Linked DNA regions of Homo sapiens: region 2 is linked to region 1. Evidence: fine-mapped expression QTL. A gene starts in region 1. The other region holds a variant in brackets. All regions are shown on one strand. Distances are between the middles of the regions.

What was found.
Region 2: its variant is fine-mapped to the expression of TTLL4 in whole blood (TOPMed, PIP above 0.99).

What each region holds. Positions count from the first base shown.
Region 1 is chr2:218,709,607-218,712,519 of GRCh38, reverse strand. It overlaps TTLL4 (tubulin tyrosine ligase like 4), which reads right to left and starts at 1,685. Exons shown (of 20, transcript NM_014640.5): 1 at 1,483-1,685. It overlaps LOC124907983 (a long non-coding RNA gene), which reads left to right and starts at 1,036. Exons shown (of 2, transcript XR_007088089.1): 1 at 1,036-1,300; 2 at 2,434-2,913. RefSeq lists silencers at 1,294-1,343, 1,354-1,403 and an enhancer at 1,784-1,883.
Region 2 is chr2:218,744,077-218,746,989 of GRCh38, reverse strand. It overlaps TTLL4 (tubulin tyrosine ligase like 4), which reads right to left. Exons shown (of 20, transcript NM_014640.5): 6 at 1,757-1,881; 7 at 1,189-1,299; 8 at 759-835. Among named protein-coding and RNA genes, the nearest start is that of TTLL4, 35 kb to the right of the region's middle. RefSeq lists an enhancer at 976-2,175. The variant T/G (reference allele first, on the strand shown) is at 1,595.

The DNA.
Region 1 (2,913 bases):
AGCTACTCCGGAGAATGAGGTAGGAGAATCGCTTGAACCCAGGAGGTGGAAGTTGCAGTGAGCCAAGATCGTGCCATTGCACTCCAGCCTGGGTGACGGAGCAAGACTCTGTCTCAAAAAAAAAAAAAAAAGTTCACTGGGAAGCTGAGGATCTGGAAATGTATTCATGTTAAGCTAGACGTGCAAGTGTATCCCTTGGAAGTCTACAACCCTGATTACTCCAGCTTGAAAACCACTGCTCCAGGGATATAGTTCTAACTCAGCAAAACATCCAAGGCCCTTTGTGATCTAACCCCTATTAACTTCACTCTTTCTATTTGTTACTGGATGGCTCCCTCCAAATCTAGCCCAGGTCTGTCAAACTGTTTCCAGTTCTCTTTTCAGGACTTGCTGTCCCTTTCCTAAAGCCACTGTGTATCTGGAATGTCCTCCCACCTCTCTATTCGCAGAAAACACTTGATAATTTTTCAAGGATTGATTCAGTCCAATATAAGTAGCTGCTAACTTTCTGAGCACAAAGTGGGTGGTTTAAATGCAAACAGTGTCTCAGTATTCAGTGCAAGAAACAGAAGGATGGGATGGAACACTGTCCCAAAGGGTCCCCCAAATGCTAAATCAACAGGTGCTGCAGTTAAAGAATAGGTGATTTGTAGTATCTGAGAAAGCAAAGAAGATTTCATCAAGGAAGGATTAAAATATTTCCGAGATCCAGAATGGGAATGTGAAGACCAGGAGGAATGGCAATAATGTCGTTTTCTAAGTAAGTCCGGATTAAGTATTTCCTGTTCTATCACAGCACACACCACAGTATGGCAAATGCTCGTTTACTTGATTAATAATCTCCTAGACTGTAAATTCCGTGAAAACATGCTTGTCCTATTAGCCACTCTATCCCCTCAATCCCTCCCATTGTACCCAGGCTCATTAAATATTTGTCAATGTTTACTAAAAATTGTTTAGTGAATGATTAAATAAAGGAATTGATGAATGAAGAATTAAATTCCACAGGATCTCAGATCCTGTTTGAATCTGTGGAGTTTAGGAACGTATTCTTCTACAGATACTGAGGATGGAGAAGTGAAAAAGCAGATATCCATGTTAAATTCGGCCCTGGAGCCTGCGAGGAGCTTGGGCTCACACCCAGAGGGAATTTAAACCTCAGCGCGGCAGGACAGAGGAAGCTCGGAGGCCATAACTAGGGGATGAGGCAGTGTTCGGGCACCCGGAGGCGAGGCCGACTAAGTTCGCGGGGCGTGGCGGAGAGGAGAAGGGCTCCGAGGAGGCGCGAAGTCCCGGCCGGGTAGGAGGCCGCGGCTCCCTGGCCTCCCGGGGGATGAGAGGTGGCGGGAGGAAGCGGGGCTAGGGTGAGAGTGGCCGGAGGGCTGGGGACCCGCGCGAAAGGACTCAGGTAGAGGGAGGTCGGGAGCGTGGGACCGGCGGAGTGTCTGGGGTCGGCTCCCCTGGCTCCGCAGCCGCACTCACCTAGGGGATCCAGCTTCGCCCCGGCTCGGCACCGGCTCCACGCTACTTCCTCCCTCGGCCTGCTGGGCTACCCGGCAGCCTCAGGCGCCCCTAGCAACCACGCACCGCCACGCGTGACAAGCGCACTCGGCCGCCAGCGCCGCTGCCGCCTGCCACACACCGCGCGCGCCCCCAGCGGACAGACCGAGAGTCTGGAAGAAGAGGGCGGGAGGCAAGCGCGGGGAATCTCGGGGGTTCTGGGGCCTGTAGGGGCGGGTCGTCACCTGACTCGCGCACGCGCAGTCCCTTCAGTGCGGTGGGATCCGGCGAGCGGAATTCTGGGAGATGTAGTCCCGTGGTTAAAGCTCTGAAAGGCTCCATTCGGAGCATCCAGGACTCTCTCTTTCTACTCTAATTCCACCTACTCCCTATGGACTGTTTTCTTTTTTAGAGACAGAATCTCGCTCTGTCGCCCAGGCTGGAGTGCAGCGACGTGATCATAGCTCACTGCGAACTTGAACTCCTGCTCAAGCGATCCGCCCGCCCCCAGCCTTCCGAGTAGCTGGGACTACAGGCACGCCACCATGCTGGGCTATTTTTAAATTTTTTTTCTCAGGACAGGGTCTCACTATGTTACCCAGACTGGTCTTAAACTCTTGGCCTCAAGTGATCCTCCTGCATCAGCCTCCTGGTCGCTGGGATTACAACGGGAGCCCCCACGCCTGGCCTGGACTCTTTGGCCTTGCCTCAATTGAAAATCAAAGGGCCCAGGCTCAGTTGAAGGATTTCTAGAAAAAGCCTTTGAGTTTGACCGCAGGAAAGGGGAGATTGCCCGATTCACTCTGCCTCCCTCTAACCCATCCTTCCCTAACCCCAACCCACCCAGCGGGGCAAAATTAAAACCACCTGCCTGCTTTATGGGCTTCAAGTGTGAACGTTAGGAAATACTGACTCAATTCCTTATCTCGTTAGCTCCCCAGGCAAGCCAGATCGCGCTCCTGCCTCAGATGTCCGTAGACCTGAGAGATTTGGAGATCTAAGAAAGCTGGAAGATGAAAGGATCTTTCCTAGGCAATTGGCTACAGAAATAAAGGGGACAAAGATAAAACTAATCTGATGAAAACAGTCTGGACCAGAGGAAGGATCTCAATAAATAACTTATTTAGTCAACAGTCGTTGATGGATGCTAAAAGTATTAGATAATTTATGGGAGAATTTTACACTGAAGGATGTACACTGAAGATAACCTACATGTACTAATCAATCTTAGATCACGAAACATGGGACAGCTGAGCATTGTTTCTTGATGTGATGCAATTGAACAGAAATATTTATGAAGTATAGCGTATTTTTGTAAAAAAAAAAGTTGAGTGACTCTAATCAAGTTTTGGCTGTAATTTCCAGTTAACAAGAAATAAAGAGAAACAACTGTATAACACTACAAGAAAGCAA
Region 2 (2,913 bases), 34 kb before region 1:
AAGGGTGAGTGCAGGAAGAGGGCAGAGGTGAGGCCATGAGGAAGATGACAAGACTCATTCTACCATTCCAACTTCTTTAGCAGCACTCCAAGCTTTTGTTCCATCTTACTATCACCACCCTAATGGTCCTCAAGTATCCAACTGCAGAGCACTCACCAAAAGATGATTAAAACACAGACAAAACAGAGTAATGTAAGCCAGATGTGATATTCACCTTAAGTGCAAAGAAAAAGCTATTACATCTTTATCCATGAAACCCTATGGGATGAGGACAGAAAAGCATTTCGCCTTTAGTAAGTCTGGAGGCAAGGGACTCATTCATTCCAATGTGAGACCAGAAGTCCTCTTTACACATATTCAGCTTGGGAGAATGGAATGTGCAGTGATCATAGGGAAACATAATAAACAGAAAACAGACAATCTAACTCAAGACACATTAGAGGAAAAAGCATCTTGGAGAAGCTGCAACTGCAGGATTTCAGAGTTACACCCTCCTATGAGGTTGGAGTTCAGGAGAGGGACTCAGCTGCCCCCTACATAGGCAAGAAACTCCAAGATACTGCAGCTGAACTGGAGATGTACGTGATCCACTGGAGTCTCTCACTGTACCCCCGTCCTGTACTTTCTCCTCTGTACACCTTCCTGACTTCTCCATGGTCATCATCCTCTTCCCGCCCCCTACCCCCTACTCACATCATCCCCCTCCTCTTGGCCTAGTCCAAAGTCCAGGGAAACAGCTCCTCAGAAAGGACCCCTACCTTCTGATGCTCTCGAATGGATCGGAAACTAGGAGACTTCATGTGGTGACCCCAGCAGCCCAGCCAGTCATCGTTTCCTATGGGAGGTACATCAGGAATCAGCCTTGCTAACAGCTCAGTCCAGGGACAGAGAGAGGCCCAGAGGCCCCAGAACTGGGCAGAGCTCCCAGACTTGGTTTTCAAAGAGTTGCTATGGAGCTGTCCTACATGAGGCCCTGGGGCCAGGGACAGAACAATGGCCCTCTGTCTCTCAATTCTGAACAACAGGCTCAGTCCAGGATTTCAGAGCTACACCCTCCTATGAGGTTGGATTTCAGGAGAGGGCCCCAGCTGCCCCGACATAGGCACGAGGTGTCTAGAGCTCTCCCCCTATGCAAAGCCCATCTATTTGGGGCAAAAGGACAGGCTCACAGTAAGGCAAGCAACTCACTTTTGCTGATTTTGAAGTGGGACCGTCCAATGGTCTGCTTGACAATGTTGGGGGTCACTGTGCTCATCTTCCATCGGAGCAACTTCCTCTGTTCCCAGGGAAGTTTCTCCACTGGGAAGAATGCAAGGGGTGTGGGGATGGGGGATGGAGAGGAGCAGAGAGTCATGATGAGAAGACAAAAAAGATGGCATGGCTGCCCATTCTTCCCTGGGCAGGCAAGTCACTAACTATTGCTCCAGATCAGGGTTTCAGAGGAGCACACTTTGGGAAAGAAGAGGGGCTGTGCAGGAATGAGGAACAAAGAAAGGGAAGACTGAAAGGGAAAAGCAACAAGGTTGAAGAGCATGAACTCAGCATGACATGGCAAGGCTGAAAAGGGTCAGCTAAAGGACAGACAAGAAAAAGG[T/G]TGCATCAGACCTACGACCACATGGGGAACTGAGCACAGTGTGACAACTGCCACAACAGCCATTCTGGAAACCCTCTCCTACCTACTGCCACCTCCTCCCAACTTAGCTAGCAACCTTCTCCCCGGGGGCTCTTCTGGGCTTTGACACTTGGCCAGGTTTACCTCTCTCATCCCGAGTGCCAAAATAGATGGTAGGGGGAACGTTGGGAAAGAGACTGTAGATGAGGGCTGGTCGGACAACTTTCTCATGATTGGAAAGGGGTTTGGTCAGAATTTCCATACAGCTTCTAAGACGAAAAACAAACATGGAGTAGAGAAAGGGAAAAAGCAACAGCCCTGAAGCGTCGTTACTACGACGTACGATTTATTTCCAAGTGCTGTCTTTTAACTTGTGATTCTAAAAAGCCAGGTGCTCAATAATTAATAATTATTTTGTACATATTAATCCATAAGGTACTAGGCTAACCTACATACAACCACACCATTAAATGTCACCTAAAGACAAGGTTTTCCAACACTTCATTCTGCAATACAGCTCCAAAATTTCCCGTGACAAGACATTGGCTGGGAAAGTCCCTGACAGGAGTAGTTCTGAGAGGGGAAATGAATGTGGGTGGATACCAGTAGCAGAACGTGCTATGCTAAGACAAAGAAATAAATGAGAGAAAAGAATGATGTAAAAATTACGAAGGAGGAAAACCAAACAAGATCTGAGGTGTAGAGACTTTTAAATAAAAAAAGGGGAAAAAGCAATAGAAAGAAAAGAAACAGTGATACTTCCAGTTCATTTTATATTTAGGTTCATCTAAAGATTCATGAACCATTAGTGCTTTTCTCCATTTTGGAAGTGATTTGTGACACTGTAATTTTATGTAACAGTATGGGAACACAGATATGGATGTGATGAAGAGATGTGGCTGATGTGGGACAGTGGGCCATGGGGGTCCCTACTGTTAATCCAACAAGGGCTTGGCCAAGGCTGTCTCAAGGGGTGTCAACATAGCAAACATATCAACTACCTGTCAGGTACAAGCTGAGAGACCAAGATCATTCCTTTAACTAGCACTGAAAAATGGAGAAAATAGCTATTACTCTTTACAACTTAGATAATATAATCCACGAATATTATTATAACATTAATTTTTAGTTTAAAAAAGTCACTTTACCTGTTATTATTTTCAGCACAACAGAAATAGGCACTGTATGTGAAACACTTCAGTGTTTTAACTCTTAAAGATTTTTAATGAATTTTATGGAATCAAGTTAAATACTAATTCCCAATGAAAAATTCTAATTAATTCAACTCTATTCCTCATTTT